7 separate regions of the Homo sapiens genome follow, and all the other regions are linked to region 7. The links come from fine-mapping of genetic effects on gene expression. A gene starts in region 7. Each other region holds a variant in brackets. All regions are shown on one strand. Distances are from middle to middle. Region 1 overlaps GSTT4 (glutathione S-transferase theta 4). Region 2 holds the start of LHFPL7 (LHFPL tetraspan subfamily member 7). Region 3 has its middle 10 kb from the start of GSTT4. Region 4 has its middle 51 kb from the start of LINC01659. Region 5 has its middle 31 kb from the start of GSTT2B. Region 6 overlaps LOC105372959 (a long non-coding RNA gene). Region 7 holds the start of GSTT2B (glutathione S-transferase theta 2B).

Region 1 (4,215 bases), 40 kb after region 7:
ACTTCTCCAGCCTGCGACCTCGCATGAATCCTGCCTTCTTCCAGGGAGACCCCTTATCCCAGGTGTGTATATGTGGATGAGGGAGAGAACTCAGGTTTTTTCCTCCATGTTTAGCCTCCCACTGTGATCAAGCTCAGGGGCTAGGATGGGAGACCTGGCGGGCAGTCTACCCTGCAGTTTCGCTGGCTTACTAAGAGTTTGGTTTGCACCCAAGATCTTTGGGAAGCCCAAGAATGGGTGTGTGTGGGTGAAATGTAAGGGGTGGGGACGAAGCATATGGCTGAACCCTTGGGGCAGGCCAGAATGATTTTTCCTGGTGCTGGTCTGCCCTGCAAACAGACCAAGGAGACTAATTTTCATATCAGCCAGAGATCTCTGGGATAAGGAAAAGAATACTGCATTTTCTGGTCAATCCACCAGGACCCCAGGTCCCTCCTCTCGGGCATATCTCTGGCTGATATGCAAATTAGTCTCTTTGGTCAGTGTGCAGTGCCCTAGCTGGTGTGCAGGATGGCCAGTTGAGACCCTGGCCAGTGTCTTGACAAGCAGAACTGGTCACCCTCCCCTGCATGTAGAGGCCACATAAATGCCCCACACTCAGGTGTGCCTCCAAATGCACAGTGGATGCCCCTCAGACCCAGCCACGAGAGCTGTCCTCCAGAGCTGTCTGTCTGGAGCTCTGGGAAACAGGCAGGGCCAGAAGGACACCCAGGAAGCCAGTGAACATTTCCTGGAGAGTCCAGCAAGAGGAGGAGGTATCTGGGATGCCGGTGGATTGAGCAGGAAATGCAGTGTTCTTCTCTATCCCAGGCTCACCCTCCGGGTCCTCCCACACCGAAGAATCTTTGTCAAGTGTGGAGAACTGTGATCCTTCCTGATTCATAACATTCTGTGCTTCCTGTTGCCCCGATTGAGTCCAGGCCCCCAGGCCTGGTTCCCGCAGCCCCCATGGCAGCTCTGCCTGCCTTTCCCGCCTCACCAGCCTATCCTCAAGTGATGGCCCCATTGGTCACAGAGGAGTCCTACCTCTGCCCAGGGTCTAACCCTCCTCCAATCCACTCCACACCTGCATCATCTCCACCACGGCCACCAGGTCAGCCAGTGAGATTTGGTTCCCGGTGATGAACATCTTATCCTGCAGAAAATACTCCTCAAAGAGCTGCAGGCTGTTCTTCACCTCTTCCACTGCATGCTCCATCTTCTCAGCTGAAACTTCCTCCCCTGTTATCTTTGGGATCAGCAACTGGCCAGGGTTGGGAAGAGGAGGGAAGAGGAGGCTGCACTCCAGGGCCACCTGCCCTGCCAGGTCTCTGTACTCTTGTCTGCTGGATAGATATTGAACACTTCCCAGGATATAAAGCAGTTTCACCTCTTTTAGCAGTTCTGATTGGTGGAAGTTGCTGGGAACCATGTGTTCACAAGGATTTGGGGAGCTCAGCAGGCATAAGTCCTGTGATTGATTAGTGATGTCTGTCACAGGCATAGAATTCAAAGTAGAGACACATGTACTGGTTATTTGTCATCTTCTAATTTTCTATAGGCCATACTCTTTTTTGTTTTTGTTTTTTGAGATGGAGTCTCACTCTGTCGCCCAGGCTGGAGTGCAGTGGCACAATCTTGGCTCACTGCCAACTCCAACTCCTGGGTTCAAGCAATTGTCCTGCCTCAGCGTCCTGAGTAGCTGGGATTACAGGTGCCCATCACCACACCCAGCTAATAATTTTGTATTTTTAGTAGAGATGGTGTTTCACAATGTTGGCAAGGTAGGTCTTGAACTCCTGACCTCAAGTGATCTGCCCGCCTCGGCCTCCCAAAGTACTGGGATTACAGTTGTGAGCCACCGTACCCGGCCTTCTGTGGGCCTTTTGACGCTGAGATTCTCTAGTTCAGAATGAAATGCCTCGAATGCTGTCCTGGGTGAGTCACATCAGCCCCTCCCGTATGCCCTTCCCCTCGCCCTAATAAGACTCTTTCATGCCCATTGTTTCAGTCCACACTCCTGACGGCTCTGTAAGGCGGGCAGGAGAAGGAGCTGAGGAAATGAGGCCCAGAGAGGGAGGGAGACTTGCTTGAGGTCGCCGGCAGTCAGCAGGGCCAGAACTGGCCTCCAGCCTTCCTGACTTCCCTGTGCCCGTGTCCCCAAGCCCCAGAAGTGGCCCTGCTCACCTTGAGCCAGACTATCTTCTTCATGGGCAGCTGAAAGGCCGTGTGTTGCCAAGCCA[C/T]GAACTCATCCACACGGGCACGTGCGTGCGGGTCTGGCGGGCACCAGTGCGATGGTGCGCTGTACTTGCGGCACAGGTAGTAAAGGATGGCCGCGCTGCAGAAGGGGCCGGTCAGGGGCACTGCCCTTGCCTTCCTGAGTGCCACTACATCAACCACCCCGGTGTGGCCTGGGCCCAACTGCTGGGGCTTCCAGAGCAAAGAGGAGCCCAAACGGCCCCGAGAAAGACCTTCACCAGAGCTGTCTGTCTGACAGTCAGTAAGGGCTGGGAAGGAGCCCTGCGGGGTGAGTAGGAGTTGGGGGCTGGTGGTATAACAAAGAGTAGGCCAGCAGGGGGAACAACACGTGTTGAATTGGGATGCTGAGGTGGGAGGATCACTTGATCCCAGGAATTTGGGGCTACTGTGAGCCAAGATCACACCACTGCACTCCAGCTTGGGTGAAAGATCAAGATCCTTTTTCAAAAACAAAAACGGGGGGGCACGATGGCTCACACCTGTAATCCCGGCACTTTGGGAGGCCAATGGGGGCAGATCCCTTGAGGCCAGGAGTTGGAGACCAGCCTGGCCAACATGGTGAAACCCTGTCTCTACTAAAATGAAAATACAAAAATTAGCTAGTTGTGGTGGCACACACCTGTAATCCCAGCTACTTGGGAAGCTGAGGCACGGGAGTCACTTGAACCTGGGAGGCAGAGGTTGTAGTGAGCCAAGATTGTGCCACTGTACTCCAGCCTGGGCCACAGAGCAAGACTCTGTCTCAAAAAACCAACAAAGAAAAACACATGCTGAAATACGAGGGTAAAGGGAGCAAGGTAAATCTGAAGAAAAGAGAGTAGGGGGTTGCAACTGGAAGAAGGGTGGGGGTGATTGGGGAGTGATGAGGCAGCCAGAGACACTGTGGAGTCCACGTAGGGTAGCCCCTGGAGGTGCAGGGAGGTTATGGACTTAATGCTTAAGATTAGGCATTATATAAGCCAGGGCATGAAAGGATCCATCTCTCTGGTGCTGGATGGAGGGTGAGCCCGAGGGGGCAGAATGGACAATGAGGGGGCCAGCAACTATCGGGAAGGTTGTGGTGTCTGGGAATGTTGGAGGCCATGGGGACAGAGGGAAGGGGATGGAGGGGAGACATGCTTCGGAGGGGATGTCCTAGGCCTTGCTGATTGATGGCTGGTGTGGGAACCTCCGCAGAACAAGGGCTCCTTTATCATCACCAGCAGCAACCATGCCAAGGTAAAAAGGTCAGGGCATGGAGAGAGCTATCGGTTAAAAAGTGGCAGGAGAGACAGCAACTGGCTGCAAGACTCAGAACTTCTTGGCTGGGCACGGTGGCTCACGCCTGTAATCCCAGCACTCTGGGAGGCCGAGGCGGGGGGATCATGGGGTCAGGAGATCGAGACCATCCTGGTTAACACAGTGAAACCCCGTCTCTACTAAAAATACAAAAAAATTAGCCAGGCATGGTGGCGGGCACCTGTAGTCCCAGCTACTCAGGAGGCTGAGGCAGGAGAATGGCGTGAACCCGGGAGGCGGAGCTTGCAGTGAGCCAAGATAGCGCCACTGCACTCCAGCCTGGGCAACAGAGCGAGACTCCGTCTCAAAAAAAAAAAAAAAAAAAACTTCTTTGGATCCTGATCCAAACAAACTGCCAAGAAAATGTTTAGGAGATAATCATAGAGTTTTGAACAGGAGCCACATATTAGATGAAATCCAGGAATTATTGTTAATTTTATGAGGTATCTTAATGGTATCGTAGTGATGCTACGCTCTATCCTAGCCCAGGCTGGAGTGCAGTGGCGCAATCAGAGTTCACTGCAGTTCTGAACTTCCTGGCCTCAAGCGATCCTCCCGTGTCAGCCTCTGGAAGTGCTGGGATTATAGGCATGAGCCACCACACCCAGCCTGTTGCTTTTTTTTTGTTTGTTTTAAGAACTCTTATCTCTGAAAAGTATGTTCCTAAACATTTATTGATTTATTTACTTATTTATTTTT
Region 2 (4,215 bases), 980 kb after region 7:
TTAAGGATTTAATTTAAAGGCCAACGAACCCAACGGCTTACTAGAGCTGCCCAAGGTTAGGGCATGGTCAGCTCTCATGCCTGCCCTGCCCAGGGGACAGGGATGATTCCAGAGAAGCCATACAAAGGCAGAATCTCAGGAGGAGAAATGGGACTGGGAGTTTAGAGGTAGCTGCTAGGGACTTGATATGTCAAGCCAAGTCTCTTTCTTCTTCTGGCTTCTATGTCTTTCTCTGTAAATTGGAGGGGTTGATCAATCATTCATTCAACTTTAATGTGCCCAGCTCAATGTGATCTCTTAACCCCCTACCCCCAGGATACAGTGGTGAACAGAACGTAGTCCCCACCTTCAAAGAGCTTAGAGTTTTGCAGGCAAGACAGACCAACAAAATATAGCAATATGTCCATGTGCTCACTCATTCAACAAATATTTATTGGGTGTCTACAATGTTCCAGGAACTGTTCTAGGTCCTGGAGGATTCAGCAGTGAGGAAAATAGAAAAAGCCCCTCCTTATGGAACTTAGACTCTGGAGGGAGAGAGAGAGACAGGGAGGAAATAAGCAAGTCAATATGTAATATGTTAGATGTCAATAAGTGCCCTAGAGAAAAATGAAGCGTTGGAGGGAGATAGCAAGTGATTGGGTAATTGGGGGATAGTCATGGAAAGCCCCATGAGAAGGTGACCTTTGAGCTGAGCCTGAAGAAGGTGATGGAGGGAGCCACGTGGAGAGGTGTCAGAGGAATATTCCAAGCAGAGTGGGGAGCAGGTGCAAAGGCCCTGAGGGGAGTGTGCCCTTGGCACATTTGAAGATGCAAAGAGGCCCATGTGACTAGAAGTAATGAGGGTAGGAAAGAGCGGTGCGCCTTGTAGCAGAGATAAGGTCTTGCTCTGTTGCCCAGGCTGGAGTGCAGTGGCACAATCACAGCTCACTGCAGTCTCAACCTCCTGGGGCTCAAGCAATCCTCCCACCTCAGCCTCCCAAGTAGCTGGGGCTACAGGCATGCACCAACATGCCTGGCTATTTATTTATTTATTTATTTATTTATTTATTTATTTTGGTAGAGATGAGGTGAGGTCTCTCTATGTTGCCCAGACTGGTCTTTTTTTGTTTTGTTTTGTTTTTGTTTTTGAGACCGAGTCTTGCTGTGTCGCCAGGCTGGAGTACAATGGCGCGATCTCGGCTCACCCCAACCTCTGCCTCTCGGGTTCAAGCAATTCTCCTGCCTCAGCCTCCTGAGTAGCTGGGACTACAGATGCGCACCACCACGCCCAGCTAATTTTTGTATTTTTAGTAGAGACGGGATTTCACCACGTTGGCTAGGCTGGTGTCGATCTCTTGACCTTGTGATCTGCCCGCCTTGGCCTCCCAAAGTGCTGGGATTACAGGTGTGAGCCACCGCGCCTGGCCGCCTAGGCTGGTCTTGAACTCCTGGCTTCAAGAGATCCTCCTGCTTTAGTCTCCCAAAGTTTGGGGATTATAGGCATGAGCCACCGTGCCTAGCCTGGCTTTTCACTTGTGAGTGTGGTAGGGAGTCTATGGCTGGTCTTTAGCAGGGGTATGACATGAACCATCCTAGGTTTTCAAAAGACCACTCTGGCTCCTGGGTGGAGAACAGGCAGAAGGGAAGCAGAGGGAGAAGTCTTCAGAAGATGACTCGTCAGTCAGACAAGAGACAAAGGTGGATGTGGATGGACGTGGAGGTGGGGTTAGGGGAGGAGGACAAAGAGTGGTCAGATTCTGGATTGATTTTGAAGGGCAAAGGTCAAGCTGATCAGATTTGCTAATAGAATAGGCCTGGGGTGTGAGGGAAGGTGAACAGGCAAGGATGCCTCTAGGGCTTTTGACCTGGGACGAAGAACCTGCAGAAGGAACATGTTTACTAGGGCAGCCGGAGGTGTCTGAGTGTGAGGTTGCGTAAGCAAAGCTTGAGATGTGTATCTTCCCCAACCCATCAATCGATATATACAGGCTT[G/C]AGTACAGACACAGCTCCACACCATGAAAAAGCCTGGGGTGACACTGGGGACAAGCACAGAGGAAGGGCACCCAGTCCAGCCTGGGGGGTGCAGGCCATGTCCAGGCTGAGATGCACAGATGGGCAAACTGGGTCTGGGAAGGACTTTTATCTCTTATCACATTCTCCCGGCTATGCAGCCAGGTAAGTCCAATTTCTGGATCTATTCCAGCATCTGTCACAGATTGGCTGTGCCACCTAGGACAAATTATGTAACGGCTCTGAGCCTCAGGTTCCCCATCTACAAAAGGAAGGTCTGTGGGACTTAACCCTTTGATGCATTCCTTTGAAGATATGATTTAAAACTATGGATGTTGGCCAGGTGTGGTGGCTCACACCTATAATCCCAGCACTTTGCAAGGCCAAGGCGGGAGGATCACGTGAGGTCAGGAGTTCGAGACCAGCCTGGCCAATATGGCAAAACCCTGTCTCTACTAAAAATACAAAACTTAGCTGGGCATGGTGGCGGGTGCCTGTAATCCCAGCTATTCGGGAGGCTGAGGCAAGAGAATCACTTGAACCCGGAAGGCGGAGGTTGCAGTGAGCCGAGATCACACCACTGCACTCCAGCCTGGGCGACAGAGCAAGACTGTCTCAAAAAAAGAAAAACAAAAAAACAAAACCCCAGAAAACAAAACTATGGATGTTTCCACGTGCACTCTCACATAAGCAAGCATGCACACATGAGCGCACATGCACCCACCCACCCACCCACACACACACACACACACAATTGTATGTCATTTCAGAGGCTCATGGGCCCCCTGAAGCCTGTAACAGCCCCTGAACGTGCTTTGTGCTATCCCAGTTTCCTTCCCTCCTCACTCCTCACCTCAGGTCACTTGTCCCTCCAGACTCACCACACTTTAGGTCAAGACCCTCCAGCGTGGCCACCTCTGCTCAGGCTCCGGCTTTGGATCCACGTCTGTGACCTTATACAATTCTCCTCTCCTTTGAAGGAATAATTTAGCTTGTAGAACAATGCAAGGGCATGCTTGATGAACTGGTCTGAGGGTGTGTCTGTGTGTGTGTGTGTGGTTTTTCCTTCCCACTTCCTTAAATAAAAGCTTTCACTCCAGGCTGCTGGGTGGGCTGAGCAAAGAGGGGAAAGCCATCTCCAGGTGGGGACAAGGGGAGAGTATAGTGTTTTCTGGGTAGGGCAAGGCACCAATAGGGATTAACTGATCTATGATTAAACGCCAGGTGTAGGAAACCACAGATAGAATCTCAGGAGGAGAAATGGGATTGGGAGTTTAGAAGTGGCTGCCACTGTGTTCTCTACCTTTCTGCCCTCATAATTCCAGCCCAGGCAACTGATATGCATATTTCTGTGTATTTCTCATAGGATCTTCCCTGTGAGCTGTGGACGTCTCAAAGTCAGGCACTGTGTCTTAAATATCTTTATCCTTACCACAAAACTTGGCACAGAGTAGGTGCTGGTATTCTTTTTTTTTTTTTTTTGAGACAGAGTCTCACTGTGTCGCCCAGGCTGGAGTGCAGTGGTGCGATCTCGGCTCACTGCAAGCTCTGTCTCCTGGGTTCACGCCATTCTCCTGCCTCAGCCTCCTGAGTAGCTGTGACTACAGGCTCCTGCCACCATGCCCAGCTAATTTTTTGTATTTTTTTTTTTTTTTTTTTTTTTAGTAGAGACAGGGTTTCACCTTGTTGGCCAAGATGATCTCGATCTCCTGACCTTGTGATCTGCCCACCTCGGCCTCCCAAAGTGGTGGGATTACAAGCGTGAGCCACCGCGCCTGGCCTGGTATTCTTTTGCTATAAGTGATGGAAGCACCACTCAAATAGACATGAGAAATGTATTGGTTCACGTAACTGAAAATTCTCTGGGATGGGCTTCAGGCATAGTGGGATCCAGGTAAATAAGCAATGTCTTCAGAACCCCTCTCTCTCTCCAGCTCTCAGTTCTGTTTTCTGCTCAGTTGGCTTCACTCTCTAGGTGGATTCCCTCTAACAATATTGCCCTTTGGTGGCTCCAGGCTGACATTCCGAGACTCAGCAACCCCAGAGAAAAGAAAGCTTCTCTTTGCACACTATTGCAGCAAGTGCTGTGATTAACACTCAATGGACAAACTTGGGTCCCATGCCTACCACGAATCAATCACTGTGGCCAGGCAAATGGGATGCTCTGATTGGCCAGACCTACATCCTGTGTCCTAGGGTTGGGGGTTAAGGTTTGGAAAGTGA
Region 3 (4,215 bases), 34 kb after region 7:
CTTCTCTCTTGTTTTTTAGAGACGAGGTCCTGCTGCGTTGCCCAGGCTGGTCTCAAAGTTCTAGCCTCAAGAGACCCTCCTGCCTTGTCCTCCCAAAGTGTTGGGATTACAGGTGTGAGCCACTCTGTCCAGCCTCAAACTGTGGTCATTAGATCAGCAGCAGTAGCAGCCTTGCCTGGGAGCTTGTTAGAAATATACTAACAGGCTCCCACCCCCAAACCCAGACCTACTGAATCAGACAGAGTTTATTTTCATAAGATCCTCAGGTGATCCAAATGCACCTTAAACTTTGAGGAGCTTTGATTCAGAACCTGGGCTGGAGGCCCCTAGGGGCCACCTTGTTCCTCACAGACTGCAAGGTATGTTTTTTTCTTGCCTCTTCTCTCTGTCCCAATGTCTCCTTCTCTCTGTGTCTGACCCTGAGGACCCTGTGACATCCTCCCAGGGGAGTTTCCACTGCCAAAGGCCTGATTCTCTAGAAACTGATGGGCTCCTCTAGACACCAATCTCTACCTGGGCTCTTGTTGAAGAAGCCAATCAGCTCATTGGTTGGCGATCACGTGATATACAACATGGCTGCCTTCCAAGCCTTATGTGTGGACAAGGAGATAGGGACAAGTAGGCATATCATGTTCTGATACCTGGGCCATCGTCTCTCCTCAGGCCCCCAGGATACACGTTTATGGGGAGTTTTCCTCCCTTCCCCCAATATGGTCACTCATAACTTTACACCCAACAGTCAAACAGGGGTGGAAGCTACAGGGTTTCATGTAAACAATAGGCTAGGCTGTGGGGCTGAGTAAAAGGCACTGGACTGTGGTAGGTCTTACTCCAAGATGGCCAAATGGAAGGGCTTTTAGCTTTCTTTGTTTTTGTTTTATATTTTGAGATATAATGTTCAAATTTACACTTCAGAATAAAAAAGAGCCACAATTTATGCTTCATATTTTTTGTAGCTTCTTCCCTATGCTTTTGAACAATGTAATCATATTTTCATTATCAGATATAATTCCCATACCATAATATCCACCCTTTCAAAGTATACTTTAAAATTCAATTGGTTTAAAGCCAATTCAGTGGTTTTTAGTATATTAACAAAGTTTTGTCACCATCACAGTTATCTAATTCTAGATCATTTTCATCACCCAAAAAGAAACTCTGTACCCAATAAAGAGTCACTCCCCATTCCCCTCTTCCCCTAGCCCCTGGTTACCATTCATCTACTTTCTACCTCTGTGGATAGGAAGTAGCTGCCTATTCTGGAGATTTCATTCAAATGTAATAATGAAATATGTGGCCTTTTATGACTGGCTTCTTTCATTTAGCATAATGGTGTCAAGGTTCATCCATGTTGTAGCATATAACGGTACTTCATCCCTTCTTATGGCTGAATAATATTCAATTTTATGGACTTTTTAGCAAAACATTCTAATTTTTACTTCTCTACTGTGCTTATTGTTTGTCTTTCTCCACAACAATGTGAGCACTAAAGGCAGACATTTTTGCCTATTTTGTTCACTACTGCTTTTTCTGCACCAAACGCATTGCCTGGTTGTGGGTACTTTTCTAGTTTTAGGAAGGAGAAGACAAGATATAGGTCCTGACTCTGGTTCTGCCTCTCATTCATATGCTACCCTTCCCCTTGAAGAACTTGTTTCTTCATCTACAAAATGGGCATAATACTACTACTCATCAGGGTGGTTGTGAGGATTAAACAAGGTAAGAGATGTAAAATTGCATGTTAGTTATCAGATAGATTTGTGTTCCCATCTAGCTCCAATGAGGGAGAGGATTTGCTCTAGTCTGTCCCTCTGGGCTCTGGGCTTCTAATGGGCAGACAGCTTCCTCCATGATGTTTGTAGCTGTTAAGGCTGGCGTAGTCCCTCAAGACAAGTTTTTTTTTTGTTTGTTTGTTTTTTTTTTGAGTCAGAGTATCGCTCTGTCACCAGGCTGGAGTACAGTGGTGCGATCTTGGCTCACTGCAATCTCTGCTTCCCGGATTCAAGCGATTCTCCTGCCTCAGCCTCCTGAGTAGCTGGGATTACAGGCATACGCCACCACACCCAGCTAATTTTAAGACAAGCTTTTGGAATTGAACTGCTGATGGTCTTCCATGAACAATTCAACAGAAACCCAGTAGCGTACACTTCCTTGTATGCACTTGCACCCTCTCTTTACATTTATTACACATTTAATGCTACCTAATAATTCCCTATACTTTTACTTTATCCAATCGTTCAACAGATTCCAACCGAAATACATAGAAGAGTGATATTCCAACTTCATCAGACCCTGAGATTCTATTTTTAACATTTCTTCCATGGATTGTTGAATGTTTCCAATGATTGATCCACCTTCCCTTGGCCTTTTCTACATTACAGATTTGGTGGCATGTCCATGTCTATGTTGCCAAACTTGCCTCATAGACCCAGCTTGAACACAAGATGGGTGCTTGCTGAAGAGCAGGACTCATTCTGTTGAACCTGCATGTTTTCTCAGGTCAGATTGCTTGGTGGC[G/A]CTTCTTTAATTTCTTTCAACAGCACATTGTAGTTTGCTGTGTTGAAATGTTGCTTTTCTTTGGTTAAATTTATTCTATTTTATTCTTTTTGATGGTATTATAAATGGAAGTGTGGTTTTAATTTTGTTTTTCATCCTTTATTGCAAATGTATACTATTGATTTTTGTGTATTAATCTTGTACCCTGCAACCTTGCTGAACTTATTTTATTTTATTGAGATGGAGTCTCAGTCAGTCACCCAGGCTGGAGTGCAGTGGCTTGATCTTGGCACACTGCAACCTCCACCTCCTGGGCTCTGGTGATTCTCCTGCCTTTGCCTCCTGAGTAGCTGGGACTACAGGCATGCGCCACCACGCCCGGCTAATTTTTGTATTTTTAGTAGAGACGGGGTTTCACCATATTGGACAGGCTGGTCTCAAACTTCTGACCTCATGATCTGCCCGCCTTGGCCTCCCAAAGTGCTGGGATTACAGGTGTGAGCCACCGTGCCCAGCCTTGAACTTGTTTATTAGCTCTAATGGTTTTTAAGTGAGTTAAGAATTTCTGTAATGTCATCTGTGAATAGAGATGGTTTTACTTCTTTCTTTCTGATCTAGATTCCACCTTGTTCCTTTTTCTTGCCTAATTGCCCTAATAAGTAGAAGTAGTGTGAATGAACATTCTTGTCCTGTTCCTGATCTTAGGGGGGAAACGCTTGATCTTTCACAATGGATGAAGTATGGTGTTAGTTATAGGTTTTTCATAGATGCTTTTTGTCAAGTTGAGGAAGTTCCTTTCTCGTCTTCATCTGCTGAGTAATTTTATCGTAAAAGGATGTTAGGTTTTGTCAAATGCCTTCTGTGCATTAGGATGATCATGTGACTTTCTATTAACATGGTATGCTACACTGATTGATTTTTGTATGTTGAACTGCATTTGTACTCCTGGGATAAATCCTACCTGGTCAAGGTGTATGATCCTTTTAATATGCTGCTGGATTTGATTTGCTAATATTTTGCTGAGGATTTTTACATCTATATTTATAAGGATATTGCTTTGTAACTTTATTTTCTTGTAATGTCTTTTTCTGTCTTTGGTATCAGAGTAATTCTGGCCTCATAGTATGAGTTGAAAAATATTTCTTCCTGTTTTATTTTTTTGGAAGAGTTTGTGAAGGCTTTGTGTTAGTTCTTCAAGCTTTTGGTTGAATTCACCAGGGAAGCCATCTGGTCCTGGGCTTTTCTTTGTGGAATTTTTAAAAATAATTAATATTTTAATCTCTTTATTTGTTACAGGCCTATTAAAATTTTATCTTTCTTCTTAAGTCAGTTTTGGTAGATTGTGTGTTTCTAAAATTTTCCCATTTCATCTAGGTTGTCTAAATTGTCCACATATAGTTATTCATAGTATTTCTAAACTTTTGAATTTCTCTATGACCAATGTGATGTCTCCATTTTCTTTCTTTCTGGTTTCCATTTCATTTTTTCATTTTTGTTTTTGTTTGTTTTTTGAGATAAGGTTCTTCTATGTGCCCAGGCTGGAGTGCAGTGGTGCAATCATAGCTCGGTGTAACCTTGAACTCTTGGACTCGAGTGATCCTCCCACCTCGGCCACCCAGTTAGCTAAGACTACAGGCTTGCACCACCACACCAAGCTAATTTTTTTAAAAAATATATTTTTTAGAAAAAAGTCTCATTGTGTTACCCAGGCTGTTCTCA
Region 4 (4,215 bases), 580 kb before region 7:
ATGGGCTCAGTCACAGCGACCATAGTGACGGAGGTGTGGTGATGGTGATGGAGGTAGTGATGGTGATAGTGATGGTGATGGTGGTGGCGATGGAGGTAGTGATGGAGGTGGTGTTACTGGCGGTGGTGGTGTGGAAGCGGTGATGGGGGTGGTGATGGTGGAGGTGATGGAGGCTGTGGTGGTGATGATGGTAGTCATGGTGATGGTGGTGGTGGTGATGCTGGTGATCATGGTGATGGTGGTGGTGGTGGTGATGGTGGTGGTCAAAATAGAGGTTATGTGGTGGTACTGATGGTGATGGTGATGGTGGGGATGGTGAGGGTAATGGTGGTGGTGATGGAAGTTGTGGTTACAGTGATGGTGTTGATTGTGGTGGAGGTGATGGTGCTGGTAGTGATGGTGGTGGTGGTGGTGGTGGTGGTGATGATGCCGGTGCTGGTGGTGATGGGGTGCTGGTGGAGCTGGCCATGATGGTGGTTATGGCCGTGCTCATGGTGACAGTGGTGATGATGTAAATGGATTCTCCTCCTGGAGTTTCCTGGAGAAACAACTTCTCTGCTTCCCCAGGGCTGCCTGGTCCCTCCCTGCCTGGGGGTGGCCCCCAGAGGCAGGAAGAGCAGAGCGTGGACTGAGCCTGACAGGGCAGTCAGTATCTTGAACTCACAGAGAACATTTAATCTTAGTTAAAAGTAAATAAGTTCATTTACTGGGAGGGGAAGAAGGGCCCAATATTTACTGCAAGCATGTGGAGTGATTACTCCAGGAGGTTCCCTTGGGATGCCAGGCTCCATCCCCACTCCTGTCAGGTTCACCTGTGGCAGGTGGGAGGGAACGGCATGGGCCCACCCTGCCCTCGGGCCCCCAGAGGGGCATCTCTCTTCTACCCCCCACGGCAGGGGCTGCAGGGTTGGCAATGCCCCCTTCCCTCCCTCAGCCCCCAACTCTTGGCAGGGCCCTGGCCCACGGACCCCTGGATTCTTGCATGTGGGCACACCTCAGCCCCTGGCAGGACACCCCCAGGCCCTCACTGGCTCTGTTGCTCACCTGCTGTGTGACCTCAGGAACCCTGCCCCTTTTTGAGCCCCTGTACTCACCTAGGAAATGGGTGATAAAGGCACGTGCCCCCGGCGGGGGATGGAGGTTGGTGCTGGTGGTCAGTGTTCCCATGACAATGACCTATTGGCTGTGCAGAAGGTGAGCCTCATCTTCCAAACTCAAGGAGTCCTTCATGAGCACAGCCCTCAGCCACCGAGATCCCCCAAACTCCCATAGTTCCCGAATCTCCACGGCCAAGTGCTGAGACAAGAGCCCTGGGGCTCAAGGCCCCTCAGGCAGGGTGCGGTGAGGGCCCGTCGGAGGAAGGGCTTCCTCCTGCCCATCCTGGCTGGGCGCTGTGCGGGACTGCAGGAGCCTGAGTTGGGGTAAAAGGAATTTCAGGGGAGACAGTCAGATCCAAGGTCAACTGCCCAGCTCAGCCCAGGACTCCAGCCTCTTGCAACAAGATGGGCCAGGCCCCTCGCTGGAGTCTGCTCAGCAAGGGGCCTGTGGGTCCCTGGGCAAGCACTAGCCGGGTCCTACCCTCAGCCTGGGGCCTCCTTCCAGCCTCCTCCCTGGCGCAGCCCAGCTAGAGTTTGTTCATTTCCTGGGGGCTCCCGCCTCCCCCTCCCCTGGCCCTGCACTGCGTGAGGGCGCATCTCCTAGAACCAGCCCCCCAGAGTCTGCTGAGATTAGGAGACCTGGAGGTTACCCCAGGGACACCCTGCCCCTGTGCCCCAGACAGGTGTCCCCCCCACTATGGGTGATGAATGTCGAGGAGCTGCCATTATAATTAGTGTGGAATGTGCCGCCTCTCCCAGGGAGGAAAATCCCATCTTGGAAATACACCTCAGATGCAAGTTGAATTTCACCCACGGGGCCATAAAACCATTTTTTCAATCACCTGGTGCTGTTGGGGGCTGGCACCATTAATCCTGGAGATGTTATTTAGAGCCAAGACATCACTTGGGGAAAAAAATCAGGTCCGCACTCCATGAGGAACCCCTCTCTATGCCCTGCAGAGGCCTCAGGAGATGGAC[G/A]AGACTGCTCGGGCACCAGGCAGGGAGGGGCAGGGACGCAGCTACCCTCACAGCCACCCTCACGGCCCAGGAGCCATGCCTCACTTCATCAGCTCCTGCCAGACCCTCCCTACCAGAGATGGCCCCATCGGCATAAGGGAAGACTGAGGCCAGAGAGGAATGGAGGAATTGGAGGGCTGGAACAGCTGGTGGGCTGGACGGCTCAGCTCCACTTGCCCTGCCTGCCCCCAGCAGACACTGCCCTCCTCTTCATTCCCAAAGCCCCCACCCGGCCCAGATCCTCTCCTGAGATCAGTATCATCCAACAGCCTTTTATAAAAAATTGTTTCCTTGATTACCGAGGGTAACAATGAAAACACGTAATTGAATCTCCAAGAAATTACCATTTTTATAACTTGCGCCCAGTTCCCGAGATAAATTAAACGCCTCCCCTGTATGGTGAGCCGCTCACTGCGCATCAGAGAGGGGCTGATACTGCCCTTTATCATCGATGCGGGACTTACTAAGAAGAATGCCTCACACTGCCTCCCGGGAGGCTCCTGGCACCTCCAGCTCATGGCCCTGAGCGGGCAGAGTTGGCCAGCTGGAGGCGCCGGGCGGGTGGTCAGGTGGGCCCCCTCCTGATCACTCCTGGCCCTGTTACTGGCTAGCTGCGTGGTGGTGTGGGTGGTAAGTGGGAGGGCCAGTCAGAATCTTAGCCCAGACTCCCAAGAAAATCAGGCCTGTGCGCAGCCGGGCAGCGACAGCTTTCTGAGAAGTGCAACCCTGGAGCCAGAGTGGGGAAAAGGCAGGGAAGCCGGGTAGGAGGAAGGAAGTGGAGATGGCAGAGAGGGAGGATTTACCCACCTGCCCCCCACTTGCTGGCCAAAGCTGACCCCACCCAATTGCGCCAGTGCCCAGAGGACCCAAGATATCACAAGGTCAGGCAGCAGAGCGGCTCTGGGGGAGGCGAGGCCCCGCTGAGGCAAGGCACCGCCTGGCACAGGGTCCGGGAGCAGGTGGGGGCAGCAGGGTGGCCACACCCACCCAAGGAGCTGCTGGGTTGGTCAGCAGAGGGGCGGGGAGGTGGGGCCAGCTACCGGGATGGGCTGTCCATCTGTGAGCAGCTGGTAGTGGGTTTCCTGCTGGCAGTTGCTAGTGGCTGGATTCTCATGGCTCTCTGGCTGGCTGGAGGCCGTTTGGGTTGTGGGGAAGCAGAAGCCTCCAGCCTGTGGACTGAGTTTCCTGAAAATGTCTGCAGGCTGCACTCAGCAGAGCCAACTTCAAGCAAAGGACCCGAGTGACACTATTCACGTGCAAACCACCGCCCCTCCCAGCGTGGCTGTTTGCCTGAGGGCCCAGAGCCACCCCCTGGGGAACACTGCCTAGTCAGAAACCTGGCAGTGGTGGCTGCACAGCGAGGAGGGGTGCTGTCAGGGGACAGAGGACCTGCTCCCTGGGAACGGGAGAACTGAGGCCCAAAGAGTGGCCTCCCACTTGATCTAGGCAAACTCAGGGTCAAGGGCAACAGGCTGAGGTCACCAGGAGCTCAAAGGCTGGCTCTGAAGGTGAGACCTTCTTCTGAGGAAGCAAGTGGCCTCAAGCAGCACCCTCTGGCAGCCGGCCCAGAGGACTGGAGTGGGGTGGGCCGGGAGGAACATCGTTCGGGACGGGGTGGGTGCCTACACCCACAACTGTGCTCCTGCCTTCTCTCCCTCCCTGGCCTGGTTCCCGACTTCCCAGGGTCCCCTCCTGCCCCCACGAGGCCCTGCCGCCCAAGGGCCTGCCTGGATGCTCCAGTGGGGCTTGAAACCCCCACAGTCAGGCAGCAGACCGTGACTTCTCAGCTGTGTGTCCTGGACAGAAGCAAAGGAGGCCCCAGAACCTCTCATCGCAACTCCAACCAACATGGGAATCCAGGGCTGCAGGGGGCAGCCTGCCTGGGGACAGGGCTGGGCTCAGACCCCAAAGCCCAGGGTCTGCAGCCATCCCAGTCCCATTCCACAGAGCCTGAGGCACCAACCTCAACCTACTCCCAGCCCCACTCCCACCCCATGCCCCAGATCCCCCATCCCACCAGAATACACCCAGCCCACAGCCTGGCTCCAAGGAACAGGCTTGTCGGGCCTGAGGGCCTCCAAAAGGGCTCTGTCTCCAGGCC
Region 5 (4,215 bases), 31 kb before region 7:
TTACAAAGTCCTCAGGCAAAATCTAGGAAATCAACTGTTGGTACATTATTTGCAGTTGGGAGAATGGATTCAACAAAAGGAGCAACAAGCATTGAAAAGTATGACCTCTGTACAAATACATGAACTCCAGTAGCAAATATGAATGAGAGGAGGCTACAGTTTGGTGTCGCAGTGCTAGATGACAAACCGTATGTGGTTGGAGGAAGAGATGGACTGAAGACTTTGAATACTGTAGAGTGCTACAACCCCAAAACAAAAACAGGGAGTGTGGTGCCACCTATGTCCACACATAGACATGGCCTTGGTGTGGCTGTACTGGAAGGTCCCATGTATGCCGTAGGAGGGCATGAGGGCTGGGGCCATCTGAACACAGCGGAAATTTGGGACCCTCAGGCTCGCCAGTGGAATTTTGTTGCCACTGTGTCTACTCCTAGGAGCACAGTTGGTGTGGCAGTGCTAAGTGGAAAACTTAATGCAGTTGGTGGTGGTGATGCAAGTTCTTGTCTCAAATCAGTAGAATGTTTTGATCCTCATACTAGTGAGTGGACTGTTGGTAGAAGAGCTGAGGCAGGACTGGCTTGTCTGTCATAATGTAAAAGAGTCTTGAAAGATGTCCGGGGTCCACGGCCTAAAACCCCTCATGGCCTTTGGTACACCAAGCTCTGTGCCATAGGGTGGAAGGCTGCCCTGCCGCAACACAAATCTAAGCCCAGGGCATAAAACCCCGTGTGGCTTGGATGGAACCCAGGGCTCAGGGCATAAAACTCCTCATAGCCTCTGGAATGTGCACAGACTTGTTGGTTCCTTGCTTCTTACTCGTAAACATGTCCTCCATTATCTCAAGTAGCAGAGCATATTCTACATGCATCAAAGGAAGTGCTAAGCTGTCACAGCTACGCTTAATGCACCACTAGCTTTCTATCCCCACGTTCTCATGCCCTCACCTGTTTACCCTCACATCCTCACCACCTGCTTCTTTGTTTGATCACCAATAAATAGTGTGGGCTCCCAGAGCTCGGGGCCTTTGCAGCCTTCAATCTAGTGCCGGCCCCCCGGACCCACTTTATGCACTTTTAACTTATCTTTTCACATTCCTCTGACCCCGCCAGACTTTGTAGCCCCCACGGCCTGGTGTTAGGCCTGATCACCCCAACATGGACACTGTGTGCACGGATGTCAAAAAGGAGAGGTGGCATAGGAGTAACGACCCGGAGCGGACTGCTGTATGCTATAGGGGAACATGATGCTCTCACATCCAACTTGACTTCCAGACTCTCAGATTGTGTGGAGACATCTGATCCCAAAACAGACATGTGGACTACAGTAGAATCAATGAGCATCAGCAGAGATGCAGTGGAGGTCTGTTTACTTGTTGATAAGTTTTATGCTGTTGGGAGGTATGATGGACAGGCATACCTGAATACAGTGGAGGCTCATGATCCCAGACAAAGAGTGGACCCGGGTTGCTCCACTGTGCCTAGGAAGAGCTGGAGCTTGTGCTGTGACTGTAAAATTATAATTTAGTGCTCTGTTTTCTACATGAAGACACTCTCTTCCTTTATTAATTTAGTACAATTATTCTACCATCAATGGATGCATTTTTAGTAAACATGCATTGCCACAATCCTGGGCACAAAGTACCTGATCTCAAAGCAAAGATAGTAAAACAACGGAGGAAGGAGTGGATGGACCAGGATTAATTGCTTTCAATTCTTAGTAAATGAAAACCTGCAGCTGGTGGATTGTGAACAAACATTCCTGATGTAACATATTAGGACAGATGCACTGCTCTGGAACATAGCCCAGTGCTAGCTGGGGATCTCATTTATTCAGTCAAGCACATCTTACTCATGCGGGTGGCAAGCCACCCAGGTGCCGAGGCAAGAAACCGAGGGCACGAGCTGTTCCAGTATAATAAAATATATAAAATAAGAATAGTTATACTAGATATAGATCTTAGATATGATTATATATATATCATTAATCATTAGTTTGCAGCAATTATTCTTTATTCCAATATTATAATAATTCTTGCTCTACAATCATAACCTAGGAAAAACCAGGCCATACAGAGATAGGAGCTGAGGGAACATAGTGAGAAGTGACCAGAAGACGAGTGCGAGCTTTCTGTTATGCCCGGACAGGGCCACCAGAGGGCTCCTTTGTCCAGCAGTAGCGCCAGCATCTGGGAAGATGCCCGTTGCCAAGCAGACCCTGGTCTAGCGGTAGCGTCAGTGTCAAGGAAAAACACCTGCTACTTAGCAGACCGGGAAAGGGAGTCTCCCTTTCCCCAGGGGATTTTAGAGAAGACTCTACTCCTCCACCTCTTGTGGAGGGCCTGACATCAGTCAGGCCCGCCTGCAGTTATCCGGAGGCCTAACTGTCTCCCTGTGATGCTGTGCTTCAGT[G/C]GTCATGCTCCTAGTCCACCTTCATGTTCCATCCTGTACACCTGGCTCTGCCTTTTGGATAGCAGTAGCAAATTAGTGAAAGTACTAAAAGTCTCTGATAGCAGAAATAATGGTGTAAGCTCTCTCTCTCTTTCTCCTCTCTCTCTCTCTGCCTCGGCTGCCAGGGAGGGAAGGACCCCCTGTCCAGTGGACACATGACCCACGTGACCTTACCTATTATTGGAGATGGCTCACACTCCTTACCCTACCCCTTTGTCTTGTATCCAATAAATATCAACACAGCCTGGCATTTGGGGCCACTACCGGTTTCTGCATCTTGGTGGTAGTGGTCCCCTGGGCCCAGCTGTCTTTTCTCTTATCTCTTTGTCTTGTGTCTTTATTTCTACACTCTCTCATCTCCACACATGAGGAGAAAACTCACTGACCCTGTAGGGCTGGACCCTACATACTCATATCCAGATTTATTTTCTTACAGTGCAAACACACCAGATGGAACTTCTAAAATGTTGCTTTCTATAAGTTTATCATCTATGAGTTGCAGTAATTTGTTTGTTTGCTTGTTTGTTTAACCACAATCACTATTTTAATGATATACTAAACATAATACTATTTAGTTTTTTCAGAAACATCGGCATTGTATGTGTGTTGGTTGTGGATTTTGTTTCTAAAATTGGCTTAGTCCAATAAAGAAAGAAAAGCATTAAAGACTTAAAGCAATGATAACCAAATACAACCTTGATAAAATCTTTGAAGTCTATTTAAATATTCATTCCATTACATCTAGACTCACCAAAAACTGTATGTCATGATATTCTTAAGTCGAAGTTGAAACATGATGTTTCACATTAAATTTAAGATATGCAGCTTGGCGAGGTGGCTCATGCCTGTAATCCCAGCACTTTGGGAGGCCAAGGCAGATGGATCATGAGGTCAGGAGTTGGAGACCAGCCTGGCCAACATGATGAAACCCCATCTCTACTAAAAATGTAAAAATTAGCTGGGCATGGTAGTGCACGCCTGTAATCCCAGCTATTCAGGAGGCTGAGGCAGGAGAATTTCTTGAACCCAGGAGGCAGAGGTTGCAGTGAGCTGAGATTGTGCCACTACACTCTAGCCTGGGTGACAGAGTGAGACTCCATCTCAGGAAAAAATAAAATAAAAACAAATAAATTTAAGATATGCAAATTTAAATAGAGAAAATAAACGTTATATACCCTATAATGTTATTTCACCTAATTAGTACTTAATTATATGGATTTATTTTATATTATAAAAGATGTTTTGATTTTTTCTTTTGATATTGACAACATTGTTTGGATATTCTTATGTTGTCAAGGCTGCACCTGCCTCCCCTGCCTTATTTCTTATGTTTTGCCACAGTTAACCCATTGTGCTTCTTTGTAATCAAACGGTTTGGGGAGGGGGGAGAAAGGGCTTACTGAATGTCTAAAAAAACAAGTTTAAAGTGTTTGTTACCCAAAGTTTGGTGCATTTGTAAACTCTAATTACATATGTGAATGTTAATACCCTCAGTGAATTGTTATTGTTTGCAAAAATGCACTGGGCAGTAACATTTTGTGATAAATCCTACAATGCAAGATATAAGTAAAAGAAAATACTTATCATTGTGTTACACCATGTACATTATTCAGTATACTAACATGCTGTATGGGTTTGTAGCCTAGGAGCAGGTGGGCTACACAATATAGCCTAGGTGTGTAGTAGGCTATATCATCTAGGTCTGTGTAAGTACACTCTGTGATGTCTACACAACGACAAAAGTACCTAAAGATGCATTTCTCAGAAT
Region 6 (4,215 bases), 48 kb after region 7:
GGGCTGGCATCAGCCTCCCCAACAGCCGCTCCAGCTGTGCAGCATCTGCAGGCTGTCCGGAGAAGTGGGGCAGGAGAGACTGGGCTGGGAGGAGAGGAGCAACTTAACCCAGACTCTTGGAAGCCTCTTGGGCCTCCTCTCCATCCCTTCCCGGCTGCCACTCATTAGTGATGTCCTCTGGGGCTCTGTGTTCAGAAGGTTTCTAAGGATTCATTCAGGCTTAGGGGAAGGAGTACTGTGATAGATTAGTTATGTCTGCTGAGGACAGTGGAAGTGAAGCTAATATGTAATATGTACCAACTGGTGCCTTCCATCTCTGGGGGTCCAGGCCCCTGCCCCAGCCTGCATGACAGGGCCTAGGAAGCTCACCTTGCACAGGTAGACATTGGTGGCAGGCAGCTGGATGGTGACATGCTTCCACGCCAAGTACTCATCCACGCAGGTGCGGGCTTGCAGCTCAGGTGGGTACCAGTGTCCCCGTATCTGGTACTTTCGACTCAGGTATAAAACGATGACCATGCTGTGGGCAGGGGGTGTCAGAGATCTTTTCTCCAGCCTGTCAGGGCCAGGTGGCTTCATTGCTCATACTCAGGGTGATTTGACCAGGTTTTCTCCCCACCTTCACCTTCAGGGGAGGACCTCCCCTATACTGCAACTCCCTCCAGGCAGTATCTCCCCACGACCAAACCACTCTGTTTCTCCATTTCCAACTCTGATCCTCCCTGGGCCCATGTTTCCACCTCCCCTCCCAGTTACCATACCATCCTGCCCTCTGTGCCCAGGCCCCACTCCCTGGCATCAGGGTCCCCACTCAGAGTGCCTGCCGTGTGGGCCCTGCCCAAAAGGTCTCCAAGTTCCCTTCCTAGTGCCCCAGAACACTAGGTGCCCATTTTCTATCCTCAGGTAAGCCCTGGGAGGTGGATACATTATTCCTCCCACTCCGTTTTACAGAGGAGAAACCTGGCACACAAAGTTCTGTGATTTCCCCAAGGGCATGGATTGAGGAAGTGGTGAGCTGGGATTGAATGTGGAGTCTCCCCTGGGTCTGCCCAGCTCCTAGGACTCTGAAAGGATGAGCTGGGGACATTTGGGGAGGAGCCAGCCTCAAGCCTGGGCCTTGCCCGCTGGCTTCAGGTTGTCCAGGTTTATCCGGGTGACCTACGTCCTTTCCCCACCTGGGCAGCTCCAGCTGGCTCAGACTCTAGCCAGGTTCCAGCCTCCAGCTTTAGCCCAAAGGTGCCCCTGGGTCCAGCCTCTGCATCGGAGCTACACAGGCTGAAATGAGGAAGGGGCCTCAGTGATTTGGAAAGATCTCCAAGCCAAGGAAAGATCTCCCCTCTCGCCTCTGCCTCCCCCTACAACTCTGAGCCCCAGAACCCAGGCAGATCCTGGCTCTGACCCTGGGTGGGCACCAGGTCACCATTACCTCTTTGCTAGTAGGAAGTCGCCATCTCTGAGGGCAGGCACCTTCCCCAGGGGGTTCACCTTCAGGAACTCAGGCTTCAGGTGCTCCCTTGGTGGGCAGAAAGGAGAGAAGGCTCAGTGTAGGGCCTGGTCCTTGGCACCCACTCCATGGGGCCCAGCCCAGCCACCTGGCTCACCCCAAGCCAACTCCACCATCCACAGCTCAAAAGGGATGTCATTCTGTCTTGCAAAAGTGGATAGTGTGTCAGGTCCAGGAAGAGCTCAAGCCCCATTGCTGCTCCTCTCACCTGCCCTCCCCAGAATTCTGGACCTCCAGGAGTTGCTCAGCCCTTCTCCACTAGTTCTGAGCTGTTTCCTCTCCATAGTCTGCTGTAGTGGGCCAGAGCACAGGGCAGATTTGTCTTCAGGGACTTTCTCTGGGCATTCCTGGGCAGAGAACTTCATCTTCTCTGTTAACTCTTGCTGATAATTCTCTGTAGCTAGGCACCTTGTAAAACCCATGTCCCAGAATGCCAAACCTGGAAATGCAATGTCAGCGCCGAAACTGCATTGAAACTGAATGAATGAGGTCCCCACCCTCTTATCTAAATATCCTATCAGTCTGTTGAATGTCAAAGTATGTAGGGGTGGTGTGGGGGAGCCTATAGGGAGTCTCCATTTCTGTAGCTTTCCACATGTTCCATGCAGAATTTTCCTCTAATGACCCTTGGACACCGTGGTGGTCACTGTTTCCCTGCATAAACCTTTGATGATCCTTATCTTTAGCGTACCAGTGAAACACCAAATTCAGATTTTCAGTCTGTGCAGTCTATGTAGTTAATAAAATCAATTTCTAATGGAATATGCCTGTGCCTGGTGTGTTTGTACCTAACCACTGCTAAGGACTTTCATTGATAGCTAGACCTTGGAGTTCCTTCCCCTGGACCCCTGACCCAAGTATTTTGCACTCATTCCTCTGCCAGTGTGTTTCATGGTGTCCTGCTTCCCAGAGTGCCTCAGGGAATGCTTGCATTGGATAT[G/A]AATGAATCGTTGCGGTCACCATGGATGGGATTCAGGCCTAACTCTCACCAAGACCATAAGGCCACAGTCTTTGATATAGATTCCCCATGTTAAATCTGCCATCCTCAGTGTAGTGAGAGTGATATTGAGAGAGAAAAGTTAGGTAATTAAGGTGGGTCCTTGGTAAAACTCCTTTAAACAGAGGAACAGCCTGAAAAATCAGGCTTCAGGCACAGATAAGGAAACTTGCACAAACCTCTGGCTCACTCAGATAAAGGAACAATGCCCAACACAGAAACACCTTTGATCTTTGTGCCTAAGGCATGCCCACAGCTACTTTGATAAGGGAACAAGACCCAGCATAGAAATGCCTTTGTCCTTTGTATAACCAGTGGGCTTCCAGGAAATAGTCTCTTCTCCTTTTGTGGACATGTACACGGTGGGCTACAGTGGGTTCCAGTGGGCACTTTCCTTTCTTGGACGTGCTTTAGAATGTGAGCCTCTGATTGGTCCTGGGCCAGGCTATCACTTCAGCTCCTGATTGGTCCCTCAAGGTCCAGGGGCCAAGCTGAGTAGTGCTTTCTCCAAGACCAGTCAGTACATTCCTTCCTTTCCCAGTCCATAAAACCCCCTGACCCAGCCTCATAATGGGCAACCTGCTTGGGCCCCCCGCCAGCTGCAATGAGCTTTCTTCATTTGCTTATTAAACTTTTGCTTCAACCTTACCCTTTGTGTCCACACTCCCTAATTTTCTTGGTCGTGAGACAAAGAATTCTGGGTGATACCCCACAATGAGAGACTGGTACATTGTGGTGCACGGGCAAGACTGCAACAATATGTTTTCTGCTTGCTTGTTTGGACTGGCCTCTTCCTAACTCTCCAGAGTGCTCTCTCCCCACTGTGGCCCTGAGCTTTGCCTCACGGTAACACTGTGCTGCATGACACTCCAGCATGATCTGCATGTTTCTCACCTCCGGACCTTCCCCACACAACTTTCTTGCTGCTTGGACCACCCTTCCCACCTATTTTCAACTGTTTCTCTCCAGCGCATCTTTCATGATAAGGCTTGAGTGGAAGCTGTATCCGAGGCTGAAGGTTATCCATGCAGCTTTGAAACCATCTGTTTATGCTTCTGTTTACCCCCCAAATACTGTTTACCCCAATACTCAAAGTCAAGGTTGGTGACTCAACAATTTTCAGAACTTCTAGCTTATCAGTATAGCTTTATTGTACTGAACTGAGTTTTTCACCATGCTGTTACTGTCTTTGAGGTTAAAAAGCCCCCAACATTCACTCCTATTTGAATCATCTGTGCAAGACTCAAGCAGCTATGAATTCAACCACAGTGTAAAGTTCTTCCCTACAATGCTTTATTGTTATTCTAGCTCCCAAGAGAGTACCATCTTTCAGCCCAAGACCCTTGACAGAACCCCTTCAACTCTGTCGCCTTTTTTCATCTCTGGAATTCTGACACCACCCATGACCCCTCTTCTTGTTCATTTACTAGGTTTTGTTCCTTTTTTTCCTTTTGTTTCAATATCCTATTGTATCTGTTCCTTTTGGGCTTCACATCCTTTTTGGAAAGAGAGGCACAGGTAATATAATGAATGAGGATGCTCCTCCTCCCTGGTTCCCTCTAAGTCAAGTTTCTCCAACGCGCTGGTCTGCTTGGCTTTGAATGCGGCTCAACACAAATTCATAAACTTTCTTACAACATTTTGAGATTTTTTGGTGATTTTTATTTTTATTATTTATTTATTTATTAACTTATCAGCTATCCTTAGTGTTAGT
Region 7 (4,215 bases):
CAGTGGGGCCCGGGGGCTTCTCTGCATTTGAAGGACTGCCCTCCAGCCTCGCCCTCCATCTCCAGCTCCCCAACACCACCCCCTCCTCCTACGAGTCTCCTCCTGTCTTTGTTGCCTTGGGCACCGACTCTTGGCTGGACCTTCTGCTTTGCATTTTGAGAACCTCATCTCTGTGATATGCCAGCAGCCGCCCTGTGAGGTAGACACTCCTGTTAGCCTTTTAGCACAAGAGAAAACTCAAGGTCAGAATGGTCAAGTGACTTGTCCGAGGCGGTGCAGCTCAGAATAGGCTCCCTGGACCCCTGGAACCCTGCATGGGGCTGGCACACAGTGGATGCTCCGTGGAGTCCCTTGCATGTCCACGCGCTTGGGTCAGGGATCACGAGGGGAGGAATGTCTTTGGCCCCCGTCTGACAGGCCCCCAGCCATCACTTCTGCAGCCACCTGACCTCTTGTCCTTTTCCTGCCCAGCAGCTGGACCTCACCATGAGCTGTGCCCTTGGGCCATGGCATTGGCCTCTAGGCCCGGCCTGGGTAGATTGGGTAGTCTGCAACAAGTCACTAGAGGCTCTTTTCAGCTAGCATTTGTTGAACAAATGCGCAACAGTGGAAAAATGTTCCCTTGTCTTCTCTTCTAATACCCTTCAGTCTGGGAGTGGAGAGGCCCTGCGGCTCAGAAAAGGCTGGAAGATGAGAGGTGGGGGGACATGTTCTGTCAGCCCCTGCTCATCCCGGTCACACCCCAAGCTGTACCTTCTCCCCAGATACCTCTCCTTTCTTTCTTTCCTTTTTTTTTGAGACGGAGTCTCCCTCTGTCGCCCAGGCTGGAGTGGGCTCCCTCTGTCACCCAGGCTGGAGTGCAGTGGTGCTATCTCTGCTCATTGCAAGCTCCGCCTCCTGGGTTCACGCCATTCTCCTGCCTCAGCCTCCCCAGTAGCTGGGACTACAGGCGGCCGCCACCACGCCCTGCTAATGTTTTGTATTTTTAGTAGAGACAGGGTTTCACCGTGTTACCCAGGATGGTCTCGATCTCCTGACCTCGTGATCCGCCCACCTCGGCCTCCCAAAGTGCTGGGATTACAGGCGTAAACCACCGCGCCCGGCCTTTTTGAGACGGAGTCTAGCTCTGTCGCCCAGGCTGGAGTGCAGTGGCGCGATCTCAGCACACTGCAAGCTCCGCTTCCTGGGTTCACACCATTCTCCTGCCTCAGCCTCCAGAGTAGCTGGGACTACAGACGCCCGCCACCACGCCCGGTTAATTTTTTTTCCATTTTTAGTAGAGACGGTGTTTCACGGTGTTAGCCAGGATGGTCTCGGTCTCCTGACCTCGTGATCCGCCCGCCTTGGCCTCCCGAAGTGCCGGGATGACAGGCGTGAGCCACCGCGCCCGGCCAGATCCCTCGCCTTTCCCCTCCCTCGCTGCCCCATGGGGTATGGGAGGGCCACTGGGGCCCGGGGCCAGTGGGGAGAGCCAAGGTCACATGGGCTCCGGATGCGGTGAGGGGTGAGGGAAGGAGGGCACCTTTCGGTCAAGATGAAATCACCATCCTTGAGCGTCGGCAGTTTCCCCAGGCTGTTGATCTGCAAGAACTCCTTGCTCTTGTGCTGCCCTGAAGAGGAAGAAGTCAGAAAAGGTCTTCAGAATAAAAACGCTGCACCTCTACACCCTCCCTCCTCCTCCCCAAGCGGAGCCCCACAGCCCTGAGAAACAGCAAGGTCTGGGACTAGAGGCCTGGATCAGCCTCACTCCCTGGCTGGGCCTCCCTGCCCTGCCACATTCCGGGGCAGCTGGGGGGCTTTGGTGGGTGGGGCCAGGTGCAGCAGGTGGATAAAGAGAAGTTTTCTAGCCGGACTCTGGTGGGCCAGGGGAGGGGAGGCAAACTGGGGTGGCTCATCTCTTCCCATCTCTTAATTCTCACAACAGCATGTCCTTCTTCCCAAGGTCTTCTGGGCTTTGTGAATTTATATGCGTGCATTCCACGCAAGAACTCTGTCAACTCCATTCAGTATTTTCTTTCCATCCCTACAGAGCAGAAGGTAACATTATCCTCCTTTTCAGAAGGCAAGCTAAGGTTCAGAGAGGCTGTGATCCCTCCAAGGCCACTCAGTCCACAGCATTCTCTGGTGGCAGACGCTGCAGGAGGAGGTGAGGGGGCTGTGCGGGCGGCGAGACGCTCAGGGCAGAGCAGGGCGGGGGCCTGGGGGTGCACTGGGTTTGTGGACACGCGGGGAAACGGGCTGGGCCCACCTTTGACCAAATCCACGGTGCGCAGCTCTAAGGGGATGCCATTCTTCTTGGCGAAGATGTAGACGGCGCGGCTGGGCTGGGACACCAGGTCAAGAAACAGCTCTAGGCCCATGGCGGGGGCGGCAAGGACAGCGGGGATGGCAGTGAAGGCGCTGAGCGCGGTGTGGGCAGCAGCTGTGGCAGGATCCCGGCGCGCCGGGAAATAGGGGATCAGGCCCCACCCCCTGGGGACAGCACCCAATTGGAGCGCACCACCCCCGGACCCGCCTCGCCCCTTCGGTTCCTGTCCAGTCCTGCCGGCCAAGACTCCACCACCAGATCCGTGCGTCCCTACAGGGAGGGCGGTCGCTATGAACGCACAGCTGGGAGGGTGGAGTTGGAGCTGGGGACCCTCGACTGGCAGGGAGGACGCGGATGCAGGGGGCCGACTGCAAGGGGAAGGGGAACCGGCTGGACAGGGAGAAGCAGGTCTGCTTTTCGGGATCCCGGTGCCAGGGACCCTGCCCAGTTCCAGGCGTCGCCCTGACCCAGAAACGACTGGGCGCCGCCGTCCTGGAAAGGCCCCAGCGCACGGACATCTGAGGGTTCGTTCAGAGCTCTGTTTCTCGGCGCTGCATGGTGGCGGAAGGGAGGGAGCGAATGGGATCCCCTAAAAGGGATCTTAGAGTTTCACCCAGTGGGATGTGACACTTGCAGGTGTCCCAAACTGGTGGGAACCTTGACTGGAAGGCTGGGGTTAAGGATGAACTTTCTGCCGTCCAGACTGTCCCCTGCAGAGCAGCTGCTGCCAGACAGCGGGAGCTGCCAGACAGCGGGAGCTCCCACTTCGTGCACAGGATGGGGGCAGGGAGCCCGCAGCCGCGGGAGGCAGGAATGACTGTCCGGGAACCTCCTTTCTTCTCCCTGAATCCCAGCCCTGGCATCTCACCAGGGGGCACAGTGATGGTCCAGGGCTGGGCCCGGGACTCTAGCTGAATCTTTCAGAGTATCCCATCCCTCTGGCCAGTGGCCCAAGCGAGTGAACCAGAATGCTTCCTTGGGAGTTTTGAAACTGGAACTGGAGAGAGGAGCTCCCTATGGGGAGGTAAACGGGAGCTGGGGCCACCTGTAGTGACATTTCCTGAGTTCGAGGAGTAGACGAGACTGAGAGAGAAAAGCTGACTCAGAGAAAGGGAGTGATAACAGGGCATGCTGGCCCACACCTGCAATCCCAGTTACTCTCACGGGATCTGTTTCTCTGATGTCTGGGTATGAAAGGACTTTCTAAGCCTCAGAACAGTGGGAGAACTCAACAAAGAAAAAACCAATACATATACAAGGTTACTTTGTGGAGGAAAAAATGGATTAACCTTAAGCAAAAAACTGGGAAGGATCTCGGTAAAAGATACGTCAGAAGGAAGTAATGTCCTTTAAGATGTTCTTAGAAACCCATCAGACAGGTAGGGTGTGGTGGTTCACGCCTGTAATCCCTGTACTTTGGGAGGCAGAGATGGGCGGATCAGTTGAGGTCAGGAGTTTGAGACCAGCCTGGGCAACACGGTGAAGCCCCGTCTCTACTAAAAATACAAAAATTAGCTGGGTGCGGTGGCACACTCGGGAGGCTGAGACAGGAGAATCACTTGAACCTTGGAGGCAGAGGTTTCAGTGAGCTGAGATCATACCACTGCACTCCAGCCGGGCCACTGAGCGAGACTGTCTCAAAACAAACAAACGAACAAACAAAAAGAAGAGAAACTCATCAGACGAAGACACAGGAAAAAAATGAGCGAAGGAAATCAGCAGAGGTTTCATTGAAGGACAAAGAGAAATGGTCAATACATGGATGAAAACATGTTTAACTTCAGTAATAATCAAGGAAGCACACACCAACACAACATGCACATACTGTTTTTATTTATCAAAGGCACACATATTTTTGAAATGAGTACTCCTAATTAATATGTACAGAGCACTTACCCAGTGCCCAG

What was found. PIP is the estimated chance that this variant, and not a neighbour inherited with it, causes the effect.
Region 1: its variant is fine-mapped to the expression of GSTT2B in subcutaneous fat (GTEx, PIP 0.98).
Region 2: its variant is fine-mapped to the expression of GSTT2B in prostate (GTEx, PIP above 0.99).
Region 3: its variant is fine-mapped to the expression of GSTT2B in subcutaneous fat (GTEx, PIP above 0.99).
Region 4: its variant is fine-mapped to the expression of GSTT2B in transverse colon (GTEx, PIP 0.99).
Region 5: its variant is fine-mapped to the expression of GSTT2B in esophagus muscle (GTEx, PIP above 0.99).
Region 6: its variant is fine-mapped to the expression of GSTT2B in lung (TOPMed, PIP above 0.99). The same link has a PIP of 0.9 or more in hippocampus and ovary.

The regions. Positions count from the first base shown.
Region 1 is chr22:23,999,009-24,003,223 of GRCh38, forward strand. GSTT4 (glutathione S-transferase theta 4) reads right to left here. Exons shown (of 5, transcript NM_001358664.2): 3 at 2,167-2,317; 4 at 1,067-1,243. Among named protein-coding and RNA genes, the nearest start is that of GSTT4, 4.3 kb to the right of the region's middle. The variant C/T (reference allele first, on the strand shown) is at 2,223.
Region 2 is chr22:24,943,699-24,947,913 of GRCh38, forward strand. LHFPL7 (LHFPL tetraspan subfamily member 7) reads right to left here and starts at 2,996. Exons shown (of 4, transcript NM_001388199.1): 1 at 2,874-2,996. The variant G/C (reference allele first, on the strand shown) is at 1,975.
Region 3 is chr22:23,993,229-23,997,443 of GRCh38, forward strand. It overlaps a transcript of GSTT4 not described here. Among named protein-coding and RNA genes, the nearest start is that of GSTT4, 10 kb to the right of the region's middle. The variant G/A (reference allele first, on the strand shown) is at 2,518.
Region 4 is chr22:23,380,869-23,385,083 of GRCh38, forward strand. It overlaps the pseudogene CES5AP1. Among named protein-coding and RNA genes, the nearest start is that of LINC01659, 51 kb to the right of the region's middle. The variant G/A (reference allele first, on the strand shown) is at 2,076.
Region 5 is chr22:23,928,059-23,932,273 of GRCh38, forward strand. It overlaps the pseudogene KLHL5P1. Among named protein-coding and RNA genes, the nearest start is that of GSTT2B, 31 kb to the right of the region's middle. The variant G/C (reference allele first, on the strand shown) is at 2,409.
Region 6 is chr22:24,006,602-24,010,816 of GRCh38, forward strand. LOC105372959 (a long non-coding RNA gene) reads left to right here. Exons shown (of 2, transcript XR_001755457.1): 2 at 1-2,266. Among named protein-coding and RNA genes, the nearest start is that of CABIN1, 2.6 kb to the right of the region's middle. The variant G/A (reference allele first, on the strand shown) is at 2,445.
Region 7 is chr22:23,958,772-23,962,986 of GRCh38, forward strand. GSTT2B (glutathione S-transferase theta 2B) reads right to left here and starts at 2,424. Exons shown (of 5, transcript NM_001080843.4): 1 at 2,249-2,424; 2 at 1,523-1,610. The coding sequence starts at 2,360. RefSeq lists an enhancer at 645-1,310.